Regions from separate parts of the Homo sapiens genome. Here regions 2 and 3 are each linked to region 1. Evidence: fine-mapped expression QTL. A gene starts in region 1. Each other region holds a variant in brackets. All regions are shown on one strand. Distances are from middle to middle.

What was found. PIP is the estimated chance that this variant, and not a neighbour inherited with it, causes the effect. A credible set is the group of variants that fine-mapping cannot tell apart.
Region 2: its variant is the best candidate, but not a certain one, in a credible set for the expression of SH3RF3 in whole blood (INTERVAL, PIP 0.83).
Region 3: its variant is the best candidate, but not a certain one, in a credible set for the expression of SH3RF3 in lymphoblastoid cells (TwinsUK, PIP 0.70).

The regions. Positions count from the first base shown.
Region 1 is chr2:109,125,256-109,132,707 of GRCh38, forward strand. SH3RF3 (SH3 domain containing ring finger 3) reads left to right here and starts at 3,950. Exons shown (of 10, transcript NM_001099289.3): 1 at 3,950-4,858. The coding sequence starts at 4,286. It overlaps SH3RF3-AS1 (SH3RF3 antisense RNA 1), which reads right to left and starts at 4,864. Exons shown (of 1, transcript NR_029193.1): 1 at 2,072-4,864. It also overlaps a transcript of RANBP2 not described here. RefSeq lists silencers at 3,166-3,225, 3,606-3,675, 3,686-3,735, 3,766-3,965.
Region 2 is chr2:109,010,704-109,018,155 of GRCh38, forward strand. It overlaps a transcript of RANBP2 not described here. Among named protein-coding and RNA genes, the nearest start is that of EDAR, 25 kb to the left of the region's middle. The variant C/T (reference allele first, on the strand shown) is at 3,169.
Region 3 is chr2:109,200,594-109,208,045 of GRCh38, forward strand. All of the region lies in intron 1 of SH3RF3 (SH3 domain containing ring finger 3), which reads left to right. It also overlaps a transcript of RANBP2 not described here. Among named protein-coding and RNA genes, the nearest start is that of MIR4265, 63 kb to the left of the region's middle. The variant G/C (reference allele first, on the strand shown) is at 3,761.

The DNA of each region.
Region 1 (7,452 bases):
TTTTGACTAGCTGAGCCTGTCACATTCCCACACCTTAGCAGAGTTGGTGGGGGGGTTAGAATTATCTGACTATCACCATGTGGAGCGTCTTCCAAATCTAAAAAGAAGTTCAAATTTTGGGCCGCCAAAAACCTGACATACAGCCGTCCAGTCCTGTTTCCTCTGAGCTTTTTCTCCTTTGGACAGACGCCCTGTGTTCCTTCAACTGAAACTCATGGATGAGGCCTCCGGATCCCTTACCACATCGTCATTAATTTTTGGTACCCAGAATTGGAAGTAATCTCACAAGTCTGAGGTACAATGGGATTATTTTTTTCCAAACCCTGACCACCCCCCACCTTAACTTTCATGAAGGCATCCGAAGATTTCGTTACTTCTCTAGTCAGCCATAGTACATAGATGACTCATGTTGGCTCATACAATGCTTGTGGTCAACTGAAATCCCCAGATCTTTTTAGGAATGGCTGTAAAGCCAGGTCTTCTCAATTATTTACTTATATAATTGGCTTATTGAACATGTGCAAATTTAACCGAGTAACATAAGACTGTATTTGTAATACTTCAACTATTTAGTTCACACCCTCAAATTCCCTCACGCTGTAGCACAGTGTACTTGGCTACTTCAACCAGAAATTGTAAACTGGCGGTCTGTAGGCCAATTTGACCACACATTTATTTTGTTTGGCTAATATGGTGGTTTTTGAGAACTAAATCGGTTGCCAACTGTTGAACATCAGGAGATGTCATGTAAAAAGCAGCACTTCCAACTTCTCTTGAAAGGTATGAAGGTCTAGCAACATTTGGTCGTCATTCCCCCAGGGCTGGAGCTGGGCAGCAGCTACTTCCTCTGAAGGGTGCAGACAAAGCTCACTGCAGTCCCCACCAGGCCCTGTTGCCTGGGGTTCACCCTGCTTCGTTAATTTCATGCCCTGCCCAGTCACTGTGGACATCTGGGTGCATAGTCTGTGTGTCCTGTGGGTGCTGGTTATGGCAGGGGCAAAAGGGGTAAAGTGGAGAGAGAAGAAAGCTGGGAAAGGTGGGCTTAAGTGGCTCTCTCTTGCTCTTGTCTGTCTTGGGTCGTGCAAGATAAAGATGTACTGAGGGCAGAGATGTGGCGGTGAGCTTCTGGCACGGGCATCTGTGGTTCTGACTGCCCAGCACGGCAATTCTTCTGGAAATTCTCACTTCTCCTGTGTGACTACAGAGAGTGCTGCCAGGTTCCAGATGATCCTGCTCCTGTGGCCAAGGCACACGGGTCCAAAGAGTGACCACTGGTCCATACTAGTGATAGAGTTTTAGAACTTCCAGGAGTGGCTGATGTTGTTGGAAGAAAGGCTCATGAAGATTTGACCGCATTTTCTGTCATGTGGGTTGGGAAGCAGAGGCAGCTGGTGCAAGAAAGTGAAGGGTTGAGTCATCAACTAGAGACAGGGACAGCAACACACACTGCAGGCTCTATCTGTGCTAATCTGGCTCAGCTCTTAGCCTGGGATCCTATGAGATGCCTCGTATTATTAGTGTATATTCTGCTCCCTTTAAAATTTACCTAGAGTTGGTTTCTGTTGCTTGCAACCAAAAGCACCAGGGCATGTCGTCACAGGCCGTCCTTGCTCTCTGTGAGCCCTTCCAGTGCCTGATGGGTCCCCTCTTTATGCTCCCCCTTGTCTACCATCTGCTCTTGGATCAAGCATCCTGGGTGCTCTAAAAAATTCCCCTTGTTCCTGAGCAAGGGTAAGAGTGAAAGGTGGCTCATGTGAACATGTTTCCATGCACTGCGAGGTGTGTGCCCTTCCTTCGGCCCTCAAGGGAAGCCAGGCAGCTCTGGGATGCTTTCCATCTCACCCTGTTGTTGGCGCTGATGTAAATCATACAGATGGAAATCCACATTGCTGAGAGACATCCAGGTTAAGAAAGCCACCTGCTGCTATCAGAAGCAAAGTTTCCAGGGACTAGCATCCTGATATAAGCACAGGATATGTGTAATTGAGATACTAAGATCTGCCTTCAAATCACCAGTAGGTGATGAGAGAGAGAGAGAGAGAGAGGGAGAGAGAGAAAGAGAGACGTATCCTTTCATTAATTCTACAAATATTTATTGAACACCTACTATATGCTAGTCACTGCCCTAGGCACTAAGGATATTACAGTAGAAAAGATCTGTAGCTTACAGAGAGCTTACATTCTAATGGCATGTAAACTTTATGTGTTAGTTCTGTGGATACAAAAATGAAAATTCAGCCCCAATGGCTTTACAAGTATGAATATCACTTTCCTCATTTGTAAAATGAGTTTAAAATAATTATCACAGGTTGGGCACCGTGGCTGGCGCCTGTACTCCCAGCACTTTGTGAAGATGAGGTTGGAGGATCTCTTGAGCCCAGGAGTTTGAGACTAGCCTGGGCAACATAAGGAGACCCTGTCGCTACAAAAAATTTAAATTAAAAATTTAGCCAGGCGTGGTGGCGCACCTGTAGTTTCAACTATTCAGGAGGCTGAGGTGAAAGGATGGCTTGAGCCCAAGAGTTTGAGGCTGCAGTGAGCCGTGATAGCACCCCGCGCTCTAGCCTGCCTGACAGAACGAGATCCTGTCTAAAGCTATGGAAGTAAATATAAATAAATAAAATAATTATCTGGCAGAGCTGTTTAGAGGATTAAATAATATATAGCACGCTCTTGGCCTTTTAGCCTCAACAAATACTACTTTTTTCCTTAATAATAACAGAAAGATCATACAACTTCACAAACCACAAGGACAGGCTGGCCGATAGGCAGGCCCCCCACGACTCTTCTGATGTTAGCCCTGACTGAACTCGCTGTGCAGCGTCCAACCAATCCTGGTTTGTGCTGGGCCCTGGACTGGAACCCAGCCCTTCCCGACGGGAACGCAAAGCGGCCACGAGGGGGCAGCGCACGGCAGGGAATCTTCGCCGCCGACCCCAGCCCACCGCCAAACTTCCCTGCTGCTCTCGGTCCTCCTGTACGTACTTCCGTTGCTCTGACGCTCCCAGAAGCCGGGGCGTCGGGAAGGAGAGCGCGAATTCACCCTCCTCTGCGCCTCCGTAGGAAAAAATTGGAGCGGGGGTTCACGAGACTGCGCCGCGGCGGGCGCTAGAGCCCCTCGCACAGCGTCGCCAAGGGTGCGGCGTGGAGCCGGGCGCCTGGCGCCAGGGTGCTGGTCGGCGGGCAGCGGCGCCAGCCTCCGACCCGCGACTCCGGCGAGCCAAGGCTGCGCCGGGAGGAGTCGGCGCGGGCCCCGGGGTGCCCCCTTCAACTGGAGCGCCTTCCCCTCCTGCCTTGCGGCGCATCCCCACACCTACACCGGAACGAAGCTCCGGGGCTGTCACTTCTGCGCGCTTCTCGGAAAGGAGTCTGAACTGGGAGCGCTCCGGGGGGTCGTCGGGGAGGATGCCCGGGCGTCGGCTGTGTCCCCAAGCTGCTCGCCGGCGCTGGCGAGGAAGGCAGTCGGGATAACGCCGCCCAAACTTTCCTTCGCAGCAGCGTTGGCAGGAAACGTCCCTCTCTGAGGCTCACGAAAAGCCGAAAAAGACTCGGACGCTTGGAGGAGGCAGGGCCAAGCCTGCGCAGGAGAGGTTCCCCGGAGCCCTGGAGATGTCCTAGGGGACCAGGCTAATCGCCGGCTTGCGCCCAAGCGAAGGGAAGTCCTGCAGGCACGGCGCCTCCTTCCCTGAGCCCCGCAGTGACCGTGACCTCCGCGCGCACCCCCGCGCACGTGCTCGCGGCCGAGGAAGAGGAACGGTCCTGCTGAATCCTCTGGAGGACAGCGACTAGCGAGCAGGCCAGGGGCGCATGGAGGTGCCGCGGGGGCGGTGCGGCTCGCCAGCTGCGCGGAGGAGCGTGCACGCCGCGCCCCGGCCTCCCCGGGGACCTGGCCGGCCGCTGCCCGCACTTCCTGCCGCTGGTCTCCCAGGCGCGAGCCGCCGCTTGCAGCACAGAACCCGTTGAGCTTCGTGCCCGGCAGCACCCCCGGTCCCCCGCGCGGGGCGGACTTGCGGCGGGACAGGTGTAGCCCGCAGCCGCAGGCGCTGCGCTCAGGACTGGGCGGGCTCGGCTGGCCGGTCCCCGCCACGCAGGCCGGTCCCCGCCACGCAGGCCGGTCGGTGAGCCACTTCGCACCGCCACAGCCCTAGCATCGGGCCACCAGCCGGGGTGAAGAAAGTCACGGCGGAGCCCGGCTCCCCAGTCCTGATGCTGGCTGCCGGTGGCGGGCTCCACGCCGGCCCCGGGACCTAGGCAGCCGCGCGAGACCGCTGCGGGCGCCTCCCCCATGCTGCTCGGAGCGTCCTGGCTGTGCGCATCCAAGGCGGCCGCCGCTGCTGCGCAGAGCGAGGGCGACGAGGACAGGCCAGGCGAGCGACGGCGGCGTCGGGCGGCGGCCACCGCCGCGGGGGCGGGCGAGGACATGGACGAGTCGTCGCTGCTGGACCTGCTGGAGTGCTCCGTGTGTCTGGAGCGCCTGGACACCACGGCCAAGGTGCTGCCATGCCAACACACTTTCTGCCGCCGCTGCCTGGAGAGCATCGTGTGCTCGCGCCACGAGCTGCGCTGCCCCGAGTGCCGCATCCTGGTGGGCTGCGGCGTGGACGAACTGCCCGCCAACATCTTGCTGGTGCGACTGCTGGACGGCATCCGTCAGCGGCCCCGCGCGGGCACCAGCCCCGGCGGCAGCCCGCCCGCGCGTCCCATCCCAGGCCAGAGTGCGGCCCCCACGCTCGCGGGCGGCGGGGGCGGCGCGGCAGGCAGCACCCCGGGTTCCCCGGTTTTCCTCTCCGCGGCCGCGGGCAGCACCGCCGGCAGTCTGCGGGAGCTGGCGACCAGCAGGACCGCGCCGGCGGCAAAGGTGAGTATCTGTCTCGGCGGAAGTGGCCACGGCACGTGGGAGTGTGTGGGTGGGTGCTTGGGCGTGGGGGGCAGTGATGAGGTGCGGAGGAGACCACGGGTGGTCCTGCGTTGGCCCACTCCGCTGTTGCTCTTCCTCCAACTTCGCTTGCTTGGTGGCGGCATCCGGCCCCTGGGCAGCTCGCCGCTTGTTCACGTGTGTCCCATCCTCCTGTGGAGTGGGCACGCCTTCCTGTCCCGTCGCTCACCCCCGATTCCTTGGCCGGACTTGTTACCCTGCCTCTTAAACTTAGCATCGCCCTTGCGTCTCCCTAGAAACGGGGACCTTCTTCCTCTGGGTCCCCAGACACTCCCTCTGCACACCCTGGGCCTGCCTAGAGAAAAGTTAGCCCTTAACGTTTCTGACAGGGCTCTGATGGCTGCTCTGGGAAGCCCGCGGGCCTCCTGCCTGCGGTGTGGCTAAGGAGGGGAGGGCAGAAGGCAGAGTGGGACTGGGGTTTGGAGGAATGCTTCTAGTAGTCTGGAAGGAGTTAATCTGGAGGCCCCAGGAGCCTTTTGACCCAGCCCTTTTGGACTTGGCAGTGTCTAACCAGAAGCCAAGGTCTTCTCCTGGGCTCCCAGGCAGGGTTGCATTCCCACGGGGGTCATTTATATTTATTATTATTATTTTTGGTACAGCCGCATTTTAGGGCCTTCGCTGCTTCTGTTTTAGACGAAAGATCTTCTCTGGATGGCTTCAATGATTTGGTTTTAAAAGCTTCTTACAGCTTCTTATTACACACCCTTGCCACCTTGTGAACAGTTACCAGGAGAGAGGGCATGGGATGCTGGTTTAAATGAGAAAAGAAAGGACCCGGGTTTTGTTAATTTCTTTAAATGGAGAAAAGCACTTAAATGTTAAAAAAAATACATTATCTATTGGAATAATCATTTGCTTTAGAAACACAACTTTATTCCTCTACTTTTGACCATTTAAGGAGTTGGTGATGCCTAGTCCTTCCACTATGTGTAATCCTGAAATGCTGGGAACATTCTAGCACCTGGATTAGGCAGTACTGCAAATCTCTAAGGTTAAGGTTAGGAACTTAAACCCTTGGATGTTGAGCTTGAGTTAAATGCCATACTTTGCTGCAATGGGTTTTTTTTTCTATGGATCAGGAAGAATGGGGACAGTCAAGGATAGTCACTGGGGGTCACTTGGGGGGCACTGCTGAAGGGGAATTTTTTTCTTTGGTTTTAATTGTGATTAAATCCAGCTAAATGCTTGCGTTAGAAATTTTCAAACTTTTCCTTCCTGGCCTTGCTGTTTTTGATGTAAGGTATTTATAATTAAATATCTTTATTTGCAGAATAAGTGGGTTACCTTCTTCTGTTCTGATAAATTATGTGATATTCGGAGCCCCGCTTCTAGTAAAACGCTGGGACATTCTGATGACCATCTGTTTACAGATGTCCTCTCAGTTTATCTTGGGGGACTTTGTGTTTGACCAGGAGGTTAGGAGGTAACCTCTGACATGTGACAGGCTGAAGCTTTGATGCCACTCCGGGAATTCTGTGGCATTTGTAGTACCTTTTAGAACTTGTCAAAGGGGTTGAAGCTTGGAACTTTTTAGTAGTGACATTTAGTATTAGCAGGAAATTGATGTTTTACTCACCATATGTTGAGACCCTTGGTTGACTTTCTTTATGGGTGCATAGTCATGTTCATGACTTTTTGTGTTTTTGGGATGTTTCTGGATGTTGTTTAATAGACGAGCACTTATTTAACTAATAAGCAGGAGTCCCGCATGGTGTATTCACACTACACTAGCACTATACTACCATGCTGGGATAATAGCATTAGGTCCAGCACATGCTTCGGGAGTGGGAAGGATTGTAATAGCATATCAGGCATTGAGCAACCCTATACAGTTGGTTGACAAAGATTTCGGCTGAAAATTACTTTTGGTACTTTACTGTCCATTGGAATTGCTTGACTCCTGCCAGGAAAGTTGAATGCTGGATGTTGTTGCATGTTGTTTAATAGAGGGGCACTTATTTAACTAATATGCCATGATAGCAGGTAACCATAAATATTACAGTCCCATCATTTTCCAATTAGAAGCTCCTTACATCTTCTTTTGGGCCAATTAGGGTATGTATACTTTTTAGGTATATAGGTAAGTATTGGCATAGCTTGTTTACTTTATTAATTTTGTTACGGTTCAATATTTTGACAGCTTTATTTAAAAAAAAGTTTTAATTTCTGTTTGGTTTTACTGGCAGGACACAAAACAGTGTTTTCCTGAACTCTTTACCTGTTGTTTTTCATCGGTTTTGGTGATCACCAGAGTACTTGGAGTCCCCTGACGTGGTTAGCAGAACCTCTCAGCTCTGCTCTCACCTGAGCCATTTGAGATAAAGCGCTTTTGTGGAGTCAGTTAACGATGCTGCCCCTGGAAATAATATACCCAGTGACGAGTACCCATAGCCTAAGATCAGGAGTTGGTCTTTTTATTTGCCTGTTGGCAAATACTATATGTGTGTTGCTTCTTAAAGTGTGTTCATATGTGTTACTTCTTGAAGTGACCTTTAAACAGTCCTGTTTTAATGGTA
Region 2 (7,452 bases), 110 kb before region 1:
ATGAATTTGCAGGGAGATACAAACATTTACCATGTAAATTCTATTCACTGCTAAGACACATGATATATTGTGATGGCATTTCTCTTCTTGCCCATCTTTTTGTTTCCATAGAGTTAAAAATTGCTCAGGATTCCAAGGAATCTATGGAGGAGGCTCAGCAGCAGCTGGATGGCAGAGGCCCGGCTGCTACAGGTGAGCCTACAGGTTGCTGACGATGTGTGTGAGCTGCAACCACTCCTGGTTCCCTGCACCCACCTTTCCACTGTACATGGCTGCTGCTTCACCTTCACCTTCTCAGTCTCATGCAAGGTGTCTCTTTGGCCAAGGCTAGTCTGGAACCATTAAGGGAGGAAGTTCTGGGGGACTAGTCATACTCTGTACCCAGTGCACTGTGTCATCTTAGGGTCACCTTTCATCACTCAGATGAGTTCTTTTGCCTTTTTTCTTTTGCGTTAGATCCCATTTTCTGGGAAGCCCATGTTTTCCTTTTTATTAGCTTATATTCTTGTTTCTGTTGAGCACATCTTCAGGAACAATTACAGAACAACTGGAATTCATAGGCTGTGAATGTTTTGAGGTCTTGAATGTCTGAAAATGTCTCCATTCCATACCCTTCTTTATTCATAGTTTGGATGGGCATAAAATTCTAGGTTAGCGATCATGTTCTTTAAGATTTCTAGCCTTCAGTGTTGCCATTGGGAAGTGCCAAGCCATCCTGATTCCTGGTCTTTGTATGTAATCTGTTTTCTGTTTGTTCTTTTCTCCATAAGCTAATAGGGTCTTTGTTCTCAAATTTCTGAAATTTTATGATGATGTAGCACAGTGTGGTTCAACTTTCACCCATTGTGTTGGGCGCTCAGTGGGCCCAAATTTTATTGACGAGATACCCACCTTCATTTGCTGCGTCCTCTCTCTATGGAACTGCTGTTATGAGGATATTGGAGCTCTGGAGCTGGATCTTCTCATTTTTTCCTCTGCTATTTTCTGTTTTTGTTTGTTAGTCTTTTTCCCTCCTCTACTTTCTGGGAAACTTCCTCACTCACCTTTACTTGAATTCAAAACCCATCTATTGAATCTTTAATTTCTGCTGTAATTTCTTAATTTCCCAAAGCTCTTTTAATTCTCTAGTCATTCCTTGAAAATAGTGAGTGTGCATGTATATGTGTGTGCGTGTATGTGTGCATGTGTGTGTGCCATGTGTATGTGCATATGTGTGTGTGTGTGTGATTTTACTCTTTTCTTTTAGATGCAACATCTTCCCGTACCTTTCTGAGGACACTAATGCCAGTGTGATTGCAAGTCACTTTCTTCTGTTTTTCGATTCGTCTGTTTTTGTTTCTGTGTTTCACATTTGAATGTTTACCCAGATATTGGGTTATCTCCCATCATCTTCTCATATTTAAGAGCGGAAGATTAAAAATCTCTTTGGCAGCTCTGAGGTTTGCTGACTTCAAGCTCTATTTTAGGGTGACACAGCAGAGCCACATCTTTGGGAACTCACATCATTGGTGTCCTCAGGATTTTCCTCTTGGGCTGGACAGTTTGCTCCCCTGGAGGGTATGAGCCTGACTGCTAGTGGGCCAAGAGCTGCCTGGGAGGAAAGGGTGGGGGGTCTCCACACTTGGGGTGCCAACATTCCTACCGCCCCTGATTCCCAGCGGTGGCTCTGTCTTCAGGCGTACCTGGCATCCTTCGGTCTTGAGAGCCCCCACAGAATCTACCTTGAATCTCCTCCCACGCTCCTTTTCCCCCCAGCCCTGGGATTGCAAAGCAGAAGGAACGGCGGAGAGGGTCAGGGACTCTTGCTTCTTCAGTGGCCCCTCCGGCACTTCACAGAATGACAATGAAGCCCAAGCTTCTGCTTTTAGCCCCTCCTCCACCCTGCTTTCTCCTCTTTTCCTTAGAAAAAAAAATTTTTAAACTTCATTCGGCCAGGCGCGGTGGCTCACGCCTGTAATCCCAGCACTTTGGGAGGCCGAGGCGGGTGGATCACGAGGTCAGGAGATCGAGACCATCCTGGCCAACACGGTGAAACCCCATCTCTACTAAAGATACAAAAAATTAGCCGGGCGTGTTGGCGGGAGCCTGTAATCCCAGCTACTCGGGAGGCTGAGGCAGGAGAATGGCGTGGACCTGGGAGGCGGAGCTTGCAGTGAGCAGAGACCAGGCCACTGCACTCCAGCCTGGGCGACAGAGCGAGACTCCATCTCAGAAAACAACAACAACAAAAAAAACTTCATTCAGAGAGAGGAACTTTGTATATTCCGGAGGAAAAGTGGCTACAACCTGCCAGGACTCTTTAAAGGGCCGAGTAGGGCGAAACTCCATGCTCACCACAGGTGAGTTTAACACCTAACACCTTATTTAAGATTTTGCAGAATTCCAGCCAAGGAGCCTGTAATTGACAACACTGGCTCAGCCCAGTGGCTGCTTCACATGGTTTCTCTACTTCTAATGACATCAATTTCTCTCATGCCAGTAGTGCCTTCCTTTGGCGAGCAACTATGCAATAAGGACATCCGCTTCCTTCGGCGCTTGATATCAGCCAGGGGATTAACCTGTGCAGAGGTGACTTGTTAGTCATCAGTTACTGCCTCACCAAAGTGAGGTCAAGTTCACAGCAGGTTTTTGCAAAGCTACGTTTTTATTGTCAGCATAGGAAGCATTTTCTTACACATGCAATGGATGGTTCACTTTAGAGGCACATCTGACCACTATGAGAGTTTGTGGGAGGCATCAGTGCACTTGGGTTACAGACAACTGAATAAAGTACAAATACATCATTAGAAAAGCAGAGGGTGTGTGCTCCGGTGACGTTGCAATAAAGCAATTCTTTGGCATACACATGGTATATGTTTATATTGCAAAGTGCAAGGCAATCTCTTTCCAATCTTTTTTTTTTTTTTGAGATGGAGTCTCACTCTGGGGTGCAGTGGGGTGATCTCGGCTCACTGGAACCTCTGCCTCCTGGGCTCAAGCAATTCTCCTGCCTCAACCTCCTGAGTAGCTGTGATTATAGGCACGCGCCACCACCCCTGGCTAATTTTTGTATTTTTAGTAGAGACGGGATTTCACCATGTTAGCCAGCTGGTCTGGAACTCTTGACCTCGTGATCTGCCCACCTCAGCCTCCCAAAGTGCTGGGATTACAGGCATGAACCACCACACC[C/T]GGCCCTTTCCAATCATTCTTAATGGCTTATGCCTATCACCATTTCTGGCTTGTTACTAAAGTTGGAGTTTTGAAAGTAAATTACAGTTATTTTGCTCCTCATTCTTGAGCGACAATGGAGACATTCCAGTTCTGAGCTTGCTGGATAGTGCAACAAGCCAGCTGGAGGTTGAATATCTTAAGGACAAAATTTGATATGCATTGTTTACCAACCAGCAAGCCTTTCAGCTCTACAATAAATTGATTTTTTAGTAAGCCATTGAAATCCATCAGATTATCTCCTGCTAGATAATAATGGTCTCCCCCATGTGAAGAGACAGGCTTTCTTTCAGCAGGGCTGCCCAACAGCCATTACTTTAGGAAAATGGAGTTGAGAGACACAAGGATCCTGGATAGGGATGAGGCGAGACACCCACGCTGTGGTGAAGACCAGGTGGCCAAAACCCAATTTGAAAACCCTGATGTGGATGTGTCCTGGGCCTGTTCTCTTGGAGCAGGACCTCCCTGTAGTTTGCATTCTTCTTCTCTCAGCTTGAACCTCTTTCCTCAGCACCTGTGGTTCATATCTGTTGAGCAAGGGGGAAGACATTTGTTGTCTGGGTGATGTTCAAAAACACAACTGTGTTCTTGAGCCAGTTTCTATGTTAAGTACAACCAAGGTCTCACTGGTGACCTTGAACAAAACAGAAGTAACCTTTGTTCTTCTGGCCAGTTCCAAGTCCTCGGAACCTACAGTCACAAGCCACACATTTCTGACCAGGTTTTCCCATGCCTGGAGCCTGTGTGGGCCTTCCCCAGTTCACTGGCAGAGACCTTGCTGTGGTGTTGCAGGATGCACGTGTGAGAGGCGTGCAGGGCGCAGAGCCAGACACGGCTCTAGATCCCAGCCCCAGCATGAGTGTGGTGCAGGCAAGTGACTTAATGTCTTTCCTCCTCATTCTCCTCATCTACAAATAAAGATAGTAATAGGCTGGGCGCGGTGGCTCACGCCTGTAATCCCAGCACTTTGGGAGGCCCAGGTGGGCGGATCACGAGGTCAGGAGATCGAGACCATCCTGGCCAATATGGTGAAACCCTATCTCTACTAAAAATACAAAAATTAGCCAGGCGTGGTGGCACATGCCTGTAATCCCAGCTACTCGGGAGGCTGAGGCAGGAGAATTGCTTGAGCTAGGAAGTCAGAAGTTGCAGTAAGCCGAGATCACGCCACTGCACTCCAGCCTGGCGACAGAGCGAGACTCCATCTCAAAAAAAAAAAAAAAAAAAAAAAAAAAAAAAAAAAAAAAAAGATAGTAATAGAACTCAGAGAGTTGTGGTGGGAACAAATGTGTTAATACAGTTGACCCTTGAACAACCTGGGTTTGAACTACTGGGTCCACTAACAAGTGGATTTTCTTCCTTCTCTGCGACCCAAGACAGAGACAGCAAGACCAACCCCTCATCCTCTTCCTCCTCAGCCCACTCAATGTGAAGATGTTGAGGATGAAGTCCTTTGTGATGATCCACTTCCCCTTAATGAATTGTAATTATATTTTCTCTCCCTTATGCTTTTCTCAGTAACATGTTCTTTTCTCTAGCTTGCTTTATTGTAAATACAGTATATAGGCCGGGCACAGTGGCTCATGCCTGTATTCCCAGCACTTTGGGAGGCCGAGGTGGGTGGACAATTTGAGGCCAGGAGTTCGAGACCAGCCTGGCCAACTTGGTGAAACCCTGCCTTTACTAAAAATACAAAAATTAGCTGGGCATGATGGGGAGTGCCTGCAGTCCCAGCTACTTGGGAGGCTGAGGCAGGAGAATCGCTTAAACTCAGGAGGTGGAGGTTGCAGTGAGCCGAGATCATGTCACTGTACTCCAGCTTGGGCGACAGAGCAAGACTCTGTCTCAAAAAAATAAATAAATAAAATAAAAAAATAAAGAATACGGTATATAATACATATAACATATAAAATATGTGCTAATCAACTGTTTATGTTATCCGTAAGGCTTCTGGTCAACAGCAGCTTATCAGTCGTTAAGTTTTTGAGGAGTTGAAAGTTAGACACGGGTTTTCAGCTGTACAGGGGTCGGTGCCCCCACTTCATGCTGTTCAAGGGTCAGTGGATATATGAAGTGTGTATAGCACACATGGGGCATCTTAAACTGCATTAGCATTCGTATGCCTGTTATTTTCTTCACAGTTGTGGTAGGTGGTGTTATTGGTTTTTTTGTTTGTTTTGTTTTGTTTTGAGACGGAGTTTCGCTCTGTCGCCCAGGCTGGACTGCAGTGGCGTGATCTTGGCTTACTGCAAGCTCCGCCTCCCGGGTTCACGCCATTCTCCTGCCTCAGCCTCCCAAGTAACTGGGACTACAGGCGCCGGCCACCACGCCCGGCTAATTTTTTTTTTTTTGTATTTTTAGTAGAGACAGGGTTTCACCGTGTTCACCAGGATGGCCTCGATCTCCTGACCTCACGTCTGCCTGCCTCGGCCTCCCAAAGTGCTGGGATTACAGGCGTGAGCCACCGCGCCGGGTGGATAGGTGGTATTATTGTTACCAACCTTCCCCCTTTCCTTCCCATGAGACTTTGAAGTTCTTCCACCAGAGGCAGAATGTGCTTCCTCACCATTTGATTTGAGGTTTGACCATGTGACTTGCTTTGGCCAGTCGTGTGTGTTTAAAGGACACATGCCAGTCCTGATCCTAGGCGTCCCGAGGTTAGCATGTTTCCACATGTGCTCGTGAGCTTCAAACCTCATCCACGAGAGCAAGCCCGGGACCTGGCTGCAGGGAGCAGGAGAGACATTGAGGCAGGGAGGCAGGATTGGCCCTACCTGCTGCCCAGAGCCAAGCCCTGCTGGCCAGTGGGCTCCCAGCCAGGCGACGCCCAGGCAGGCACATGCATGTGAGTGAGAATAAATGATTATGTGAAGCAGTGAGTTTGGGGTGGCGTTTTATTTGGCGTAATTGTGGCAGTCGCTGGCAGATACAACAGGAGAGTTAATGGGGTGGAAGTTCATGAACTGCTATGGAGGGACGCAGGAGGGGAAAGAACGGGATACAATTCCCACTGCCCCCTATGGAAACTCGGGTGTGAAAGGGTAGGATGACTAGTCTGAGGTCTGTGATTTGGAGACAGGAAGCTGACTTCAGAAGGTTTGCTCCCTGCCTCCCATGCAAAGCATGGCACCAGGGAATATATAGTTGTTCTGAATGTGCTGAGCATAGTTTCCTCAATGTTTTTCTATCTTGACTTATTCTCCCATCATTTCTCTTAGCAGCACAGAGAGGGCTCTCTCCCTTCAGTCACACCCGGTAGAAACCTTTGCCATTCTCTGCGTGCCAAAGGCTCATGCCACAAACAACTGGTCAGAGTTCAGATCCTGGAAGTGGTGTGTTTCTTTGTGCATGCCATGAATATGTCACAACTTTTCCAAAGCTCTGGGGGCAGCTGAATGATTGAAACTCTTTGATACGATCCTGAGGCCCTCTGGAGTCATGGGCTTGGCGCCTGGGCAGCCCCTGTCCCTGCTGTCCATCAGCTTCTGAATGAGAGAGAGAGCGAGCAAGTGGTGGAAGCAACAAGAGACCTTGGGAATCACAGGATGGCGTGGGGTCGCTCCTGCTCTTGGCTGGCCTGGCCTCATCCACTTCCAGCCTCTTTCCTCAGCAGCTCCTGGGCAGACCTCAAGAAAGCCTTGTTTGAAATGCAGGAAGACCTCAGAAGTGTTTCCTTGCCAAGTTTGGTTGAAGCTATTTTTTTAAATTGCTCTTTTTTTCCAATCTCTTTTTTGTAACAATTTATTTATTTTGATGGGCAGAGCTCATGTATGAGGTCAGTGGATATTTTAGCATATTGTTGTATCACCTGTGAGGATATGAGACCCTTGGAATCTTAATAACAGCATATTAATGATGCATTCAGTCTCTGGGTACCCACACCTGCACTAATCAGTTCTTAGGAGCAGAGACCATGTAGGCTGGAAGGGGTGAAGACACCTTCTAAATCCCCCGTTGTTAGGCTGAGCACGGCAATCCTCACTGTTATGTATCCTACTGTCTTTGCCTTTGAAATAATGCACTGGTATTTTACCTGAGATGGTGGAAATGGTGGTGGAGATGGAGAGAATTCTAGTTAAATGACAGATGCAGGCTTGACTTTGCAGTCTCACAGATGTTTCATTAATTGGCAGTAATGATGCCTGCTCAGAAAAGGGAGTTTGCACCAGGAAGCATTTTCTTAAAATCAGACCATTACCTCAGAATTAGAATGAACAAAGACAGAGTCGGGCAGGTTAGGCCATC
Region 3 (7,452 bases), 75 kb after region 1:
CTGGAGATGCCACAGCCTCTTAAAGTGAGCTTGTCCCAGCAGCCTGCCCCACCCCTACCTGGCCAAGCTGGAGGCCTCTTTTCTCCTGGTGTCCCTGCACTCCGGTTGGTTCACCTGCTCACAGGCTCTATTTCTTGCTGCCCCTCCTCACCCCTCATGCCCACTCCATGACCAGGTCCTTTAGGGCCGGCTGAGCACAGAAGAAAAACACAGGGCCCTGAGTTCACAGGACAAGAGAAAAGCTTTTCCCCTAAGTGCGGCCTCTCAGCCTGTCATGGGGTTTCCTATGTGCTGTTTCATGTCACTCCTCCTTGGGCCCTGGGTGCTGTTGGGATAGTGCAGACCTCGCAGTGGCCCGGGGCCCACCCACACTGGCACCCGGGCTGCTGCTGGGGACAAAGGGGCAGCAGCAGCAGCTAAGTGGCTGTGGGGACCTGGGTGGGACCCTGTGAGCTGGAGCTCCAGGCTGAAGCAGCCGTGCTCAGGGACTCTCAGTTCTCTCCCCTGTCCCTCAGCACAGACCTTATTTTATATCAGGTACGGCTCTGGCTTCACACGTCTTCCTTCCGGCGGCCTCTGCATGGCTGCAAGATGCACGGTCCTGAAATGATGCTTTAGTTTTGCCTCTTCTGCACTTAAAAACTCATTTTGCAAAGTGAAAATTTTGCTGGCCTTGTATTTGAAGCCTTTCACAGACAGACCCCAGCCCCACTCTCCCACAGGCCTCCCTGATCTGTGACCTAGAACCCACAGGTACATGGCCTGGGCTTTGGGCCTTGGCCCCTTGCCTGTGTGCAGGCTGTTTCCCGGATCTCTCTGTCTCCAGGCACACATCCAGGTATCTCAGCCGCCACAGGCCAGCAGTCCCACCTCTCTCTCTCTTATCTCTCTCTCCCCCTGGCTACCCCAGGCCACCCTTGCTGTCTCCTGCTAGGGTCTCCCCTCCCTGGTTTGGAAGTTGCTCTCCTCCTCTTTCAGTTTTGAGGTCTCTGAAAGTGTGATCTGGGACCATGCCGGGCCTCTCACAGCATGGCCTTCGTTTGGGACGTTTGTGTCAGGAGGCAAGTGTCTGCCCACTTCTCCAGCCCGTCAGCAGCATGGGAAACGCTGCGCCTTGCATGGAGAGCCACGTACAGCCCAGGGGCACAGCCAAGCGGTGAAAGGAGCATTGGTAGGAAATGAGCTTTGGGAAGTGGGTATAAATGCTGCTCAGCTGATCTCTTGGGTTATTTAAATGGGGCATAGTGCCCTCCCTCCAGGGAGAATTATGTCCTGTGTTGCTAAGCCTCCTACCAATGAGTCTGACACATCTGAAATCAATACAAGGACCCGTGGCATCATAAAAAAACTGGTGGAGAAGCAAATGTTTTAATTAAAGTAACCTGTAATATGTCCAAAGGAAACGGGACACAGGCACAGAACCTAGGCCACATTGTATTTGCCTTGGAGCCTGGCTGGGTCTCGTGACAGCACAGCTGGCAGGAGGCACACAGCCTCCCCTCGAGGCGATCTCGGCCACTTTCTCATCTTGACAGATCAGCATATGGACGCACTTACAGCTTGTAGATGAACACGGGGAAGAAAACAACCCTTCTCTTCCCTCCCTTGTTTCCCAAGCCACCTGTGGACTGCAGAGTGAGGATGCGGCCCCCACCTTGCCTCCAGTGCTGCCTCCCAGGTCCATCTCGGCAGCGTCTGGACCCCCTCGGAGGGGAGCGATGGATAATGAAACTCCCTAGGAGTGTGTCTCGGCTGCTTTGGGCTTTCCACTCTCTGTTTGAGATTTTGTGAAGGGACACCTAATTGCCCGAACTTAATTGTACTTTTTAGTACAATTACTAAATGTAGTACAATTACAATTACACAGTACTTTTTCTCTTTGTCCCTGGGGCGCGTTCTTGTTCCTCACATGTCTGGGTAGCTGGTGGGTGGTCAGCATGGCTGCTTTCTCCTTCCCCTCCCAGCAGTCAGCAGTGATTATTCTTTAAAAATTGAGAATTCCTTTTTCAGAGCATAGAGGGTGAGGCGTCAGCCCGGCCCCAGGAACCTGGGTCCTGGGAAAACAGCCAGCACACAGCCTTGGGTGAGCACCTTCTCTCCCTGAGCCTCAGTTTCCCCATCTGGAAACGCCACGGCCTTCCCGTGGGGCTGTCGACAGCCCTTCCCATACTATGGAGCTCTTAGGATCATACACACATTTAAGCAAAGGGGGTCGAGAGCCCCATTCCCGGGAAAGGGCCCAACTTTAAGTGTTGCAGAATTTATGGACTGAACAACTGCTTGGCTGATTAGCACAGTTTTGTCCCGATAGTAATGTTTTAGAGTGTAGGTGTCATGGAAGGAATGCAAACACAATGGGAGCTGGTCTTGTGCCTGAGGATAACACTTGTGCCTAACAAGGTAACACTTGGGCCTGAGGATACTGGCCTGGCCATGGTCCTACAGTGATTGGAGGGGAAGAGGCTCCAAAGGCTACAGAAGCTCCGTCGAGCCTGGAACACTGGTGGCCCTGCACGGTGCCCTGGGCCTGTCCGTGTCCTCAGCAGTCAAGGAGCACTGTCCACTCATTGAGTGACATCCTCATTGAGGATGCCTTGCCCGCAAGAAGGACCCTGCAGAGAGCCAGGAGCCTCTTCAGAGAGCCCCAGGGCAGCATCAGGATGAGGCAGGCTGTGTGGCTGTAATTAAGAGGCTACAGGTGGCTCTCTCAGGTGGACGCAGCAGACAGTGGCGCAGATGCGGCGGAGCTTGCTAGTCCTTATGCTGCCCTGTTGTGAGACGGATGGCCTTGGGAGGGTGTTTCCGCGTCCCTACGAGCGCATCACCTGTGGTCAGGCGATCACTGTATCCCTGGCCATGACATATTCTTTAAGTCGCTTCTTAGTTCCTAAGTCCCACCGCTCCCCATTGCCTCCTGAATGCAGTTGCTCTGATCCCAGGGCATGCATTTGGAGCCCTCTGGGACTGCTCCATGTGGTTCGTCCAGCTCTCTGGAACACTGTTCTCCACTTTCCCTTTGCACGACAAGCATCGTGGCCCTGTCTCTGTGCACCCCATGTGAGTGTCCTGGCCCTGTGTCTCTGTGCACCCTGCACTTCCACCCCCTGGGCCTGGAGCCCCATCTTCTCTCCATGGGTATGCTCTGCCCAGCCCACAGAACCCACATACCTTTCACACCCTCGGTCCATCCATTCCTGCCCTTTGTCTCATGCACGCCTCGACTCTGAAGCGTTTGCTCTCTTGTGTGGGTGCCTCGCTACCTACCCCTGGGCCCTTCTTGTTCCCTGTGCGGCCTGGCAGCCCTTGATGGCAGGGCTGATGTGTGTGCTGTTGTGGCCCCAAGGCCTCCCAGCAGAGCATCTGCACGGTGCTCCAGTGTGAAGCATTTGTGGGCTTGAAGGGGCTCTGAGTGTGAAAACCCGAGTAGTTTATATCTTTGAGACGTCAGGAGGCCATTCGAAAAATGCCTGGATTTGCACCTCCTGCCCACTGGCTGTCATGAACAGTCTCAGACAAGGCGAAGAGGGTAAGGAGAATCCAGTGAAGGTCTGTCTCTTCTCCATTTAGATTCAGCCATTAACTCTGCCACATCTGCTCTTTCCTTTTATCTGTCTGTATGTCTGTCTGTCTGTCTTGGGTGAACCATGAAACTTACTTTGCTTATGCCCTGTTGCTTCATTCCTAGATAATTTAGCAGACACCTCTGCAGAATAAGGGCACTCTTCTGTGATCCTGTTATCTCACCTAAGAGAGTTAGCAG[G/C]AATCTCCTTATCTTATCTTTTAAATCATTATCAATACCAGTTCACATTCAGGTTTTCCTGATTGTCCCTTAAAAATCTGCTGTAGTTTTTGTTAAAACTGGGTTCACTTGTGGCTTTTGTTATGCCCCTCCAATCTCCCTTATTCTAGACTAGTTTCTCAACATTGTACATATATTTGTGTGCAATGTACAATGTACACATAAATGGGTGTGTTCAGCAGCGTCCCTGGCCTCCATCCTCCAGGTGCCGGCAGCGCCACCTACTCCACCACCAGGTGTGACAACCCACACATTGCCAGGGACCTGCTGGCAGGCAGGATGCCCCATTGGAGAACTGTTCTAGCAGTCTCTTACTTTGCTTTTGAAGGTATTGACCCTTTGAAGAGACCAAGCCAATTATTTTGTCAAATGTCCTGCATTCTAGATTTATTGGGTCATTTCTTGATGGTGCCATTGAACTTGTTTCTTGATTCCCTGTATTTTCTGTAGCGTGGAAGTGGGGGCTAAACTAAAGGCTTTTTTGTGTTCCAGGGAAATAATTTTAGAAGTCTGCCTTTTAAAGTAGAGCAACTGGGTGGGCATGGTGGCTCATGCCTGTAATCCTTGTGCTCCAGGAGGCTGAGGCAGGAGGATCACTTGAAGCCAGGAGGTTGAGACCGGCCTGGTCAACATAGTGATACCCTGTCTCTACAAAACTAAAAATATTAACTGGGCATAGAAGTACATGCCTGTAGTCTCAGCTACTTGGGAGGCCGAGGTAGGAGGATGCCTTGAATACAAGAGATTGAGGCTACAATGAGCCATGTTTATGCCGCTGCACTCCAGCCTGGGCAGCAGAGTGAAACTCCGTCTCTAAAAATAAATAAATAATAAAATAAGATAAAAAAAATTAGAGCAACTTATGTGACTTTTTTTTTTTTTTTTTTAAACTGAGTCTTGCCATGTCGTCCAGGCTGGAGTGCAGTGGCTCAATCTCAGCTCAAGAGATTCTCCTGCCGCAGCCTTCTGAGTAGCTGGGACTACAGGCATGCATCACCATGCCTAGATAATTTTTTGTTTTTGTTTTTTGTATTTTTAGTAGAGACAGGGTTTCACCATGTTGGCCAGGCTGGTCTTGAACTCCTGACCTCAAGTGATCCACCTGCATCCACCTCCCAAAGTGCTGGGATTACAGGTGAACCACTGTGCCCCGCCCAACTTATGTGACTCTTTATGCTCACACAGAAACTACATTCTAGGGGTGCAGAGGGTATATTCATCAGATGGGAGAAGGCCACGGTGAGAATCACATGGCTCAGTCTGTTGGTGTCAGGGTCTGCACCGTATCTGCCCTAGATCTCTGGGCAGAGGTGTTGTTTCGGGGCAGTGCACTTTGCTCACTGGCAGGAAGGCAGCCCCGCTCTGTGCAGCCTTCCCCAGCAGCCTCCCTGAAGCAGCGGGGGGATCAGAGACAGGGAAGCACACTGTGTGTGTAAAATACTCTTGAGCCTAAAGTTGGAGTTTTCTCCTTTCCGCTTCCTGTTTTTTCATAGAAACCAACTGAAGGGTTATGAATTATTTGTTGACTTAAAAAAGTAGATGTGTGTTTTTCTGAGCTCTTTGTAACATTGAGATTTACCATGTTTACTCCAAAAGTGTTTCAAGGCCAAGTAGTAGTTGGAGACTAACCTGGTGAACTGTCACTTGTACCCTGAGATGCCTTTCCAGCCTCCGCGGTGGGCATTGTATGACCTGCACGTGAATGGATGGGTGACCCAAGCCACCCCTCTCTCCCTGGAGGTTTTGCTTGGTGTAGAATGTTATTCTGGGGACACAGCACTATATTTTTAACTATGGTCGAGATTAGAGGAGGCTGGGCCGGGCACGGTGGCTCACGCCTGTAATCCCAGCACTTTGGGAGGCTGAAGTGGGCAGATCATGAGGTCAGGAGATTGAGACCATCCTGGCTAACATGGTGAAACCCTGTCTCTACTAAAAAATACCAAAAATTTGCCGGGCTTGGTGGAGGGCACCTGTAGTCCCAGCTACTCAGGAGGCTGAGGCAGGAGAGTGGCGTGAACCTGGGAGGCAGAGCATGCAGTTAACCAACATCGTGCCACCGCACTCCAGCCTGGGCGACAGAGTGAGACTCCGTCTCAAAAAAAAAAAAAAAAAAAAAAAAAGAATTAGAGGAGGCTGAGTGTGGTGGCTCACACCTATAATCCCAGCAGTTTGGGAGGTCAAGGAGGGAGGATAGCTTGAGGCTGGAGTTCAAGACCAGCCTGGGAAACATAAGTAAGACCCTGTCTCTACAAAAAAAAAATTTTTTTTAAATTAGCTGGGCATATTAGTGTATGCTTATAATTCCAGCTACTCAGGAGACTGAGGTCAAAGAATTGCTTAAGCCCAGGAGTTCAAGGTTACAGTGAGCTATGATTGTGCCACTGCACTCCAGCCTGGGTGACAAGAGAGAGACACTATTAGTTACTTAACTCTGGCATTTGCTATTTCTGCACTAATTGTCAAAGTTGACTGAGCATTCTCAGTGCCCCTTCTGCCCAGTCATGGGCCATAAGCTTGTGTTTGGGATAGCATGTCTCTGTGTCATGTGTGGCTTGTTATGGTTGCCTGGAATGAACTTCAACACACCTCTGTTTGGCTGAGCGCTGCATTTGCAGGAGGTGAGAACCACTCAGGGCCTGAGGCAGAACCTGACCATGCTCATTTGGAGGAGAGGGCCTGGGGAGCTTAGTGCGCTCAAGAAGAAGGCAGATAGGGCTGTGTGTGCTGTAGAGGATGATAAACTGGGGGTGAGGGTGCAATGACGACACAGTGCCACATTTTAGAACTATGCTCTCATCTTGTGCAAACAGGTCTGTTTACAGCAGTTCATTTTTATGAGTTACAATTATTATTTCTGGATAATTTTGGTGTATGGTAATCATTAGAGTAAGCTGTGTGTCTGATTAAAGAATTTGTCTCTAATTTATGCCAATTTAAAGATGTCTTCTGTGTTCTCTTTGTCTCTGGGGGAGGGAAGCAGGTTGCTATGGAGACAACATAAGAAAAAGTGACAGGCAAGAAGGCTTGGCAGTTTCGATTTTGAAAATATTTGTGATGTAGGTAATTATATATGTAATAATGTTATGCAGCAGAACCATCTGCCTTTGGAGAGATGCATGTCATGGAATTTCATGGTAAAACAGTGTTTCTCTTAGGAACAAAATGTTATTTGTGTGCTATTAAGATATTGAAATTGTGGAAAATAAAGATGCAATGGAGCCCTAAGATTGTTTCCAGGGGTGCAGTTGCTGTATGATGTAAGGTGCCACCTATAGAATTTGGAAAGCTATTTTCACATGGAAACAAAACATTTGTATAGGAAGACTTACCTGAGACTGAATTATTTTATGTTGTAAATTGCTAAAATCAACTGTATTCAGGTTTATAACTGATTTTGATCAGTTTAAATGGCACAATTTTCTTTTTTAAAAAAAATTAAACTATACCTCATATTGTTTGGGGACCAATTTAACAAATTGGCCTATGGCAGTTTCCCTGTATCATCATTTTCCCAGGGATCTTGGCTTAGTTTTGCTCTAATCTGGAATTCCTTCTTTTACTCTTACACAGTTGAGCATTCCCCCTCCCCCATTTTTAAATTCTGGTGAGATTTAAAAGAAGAAGAAACTTTAGCATGCGATTTGTTAAAT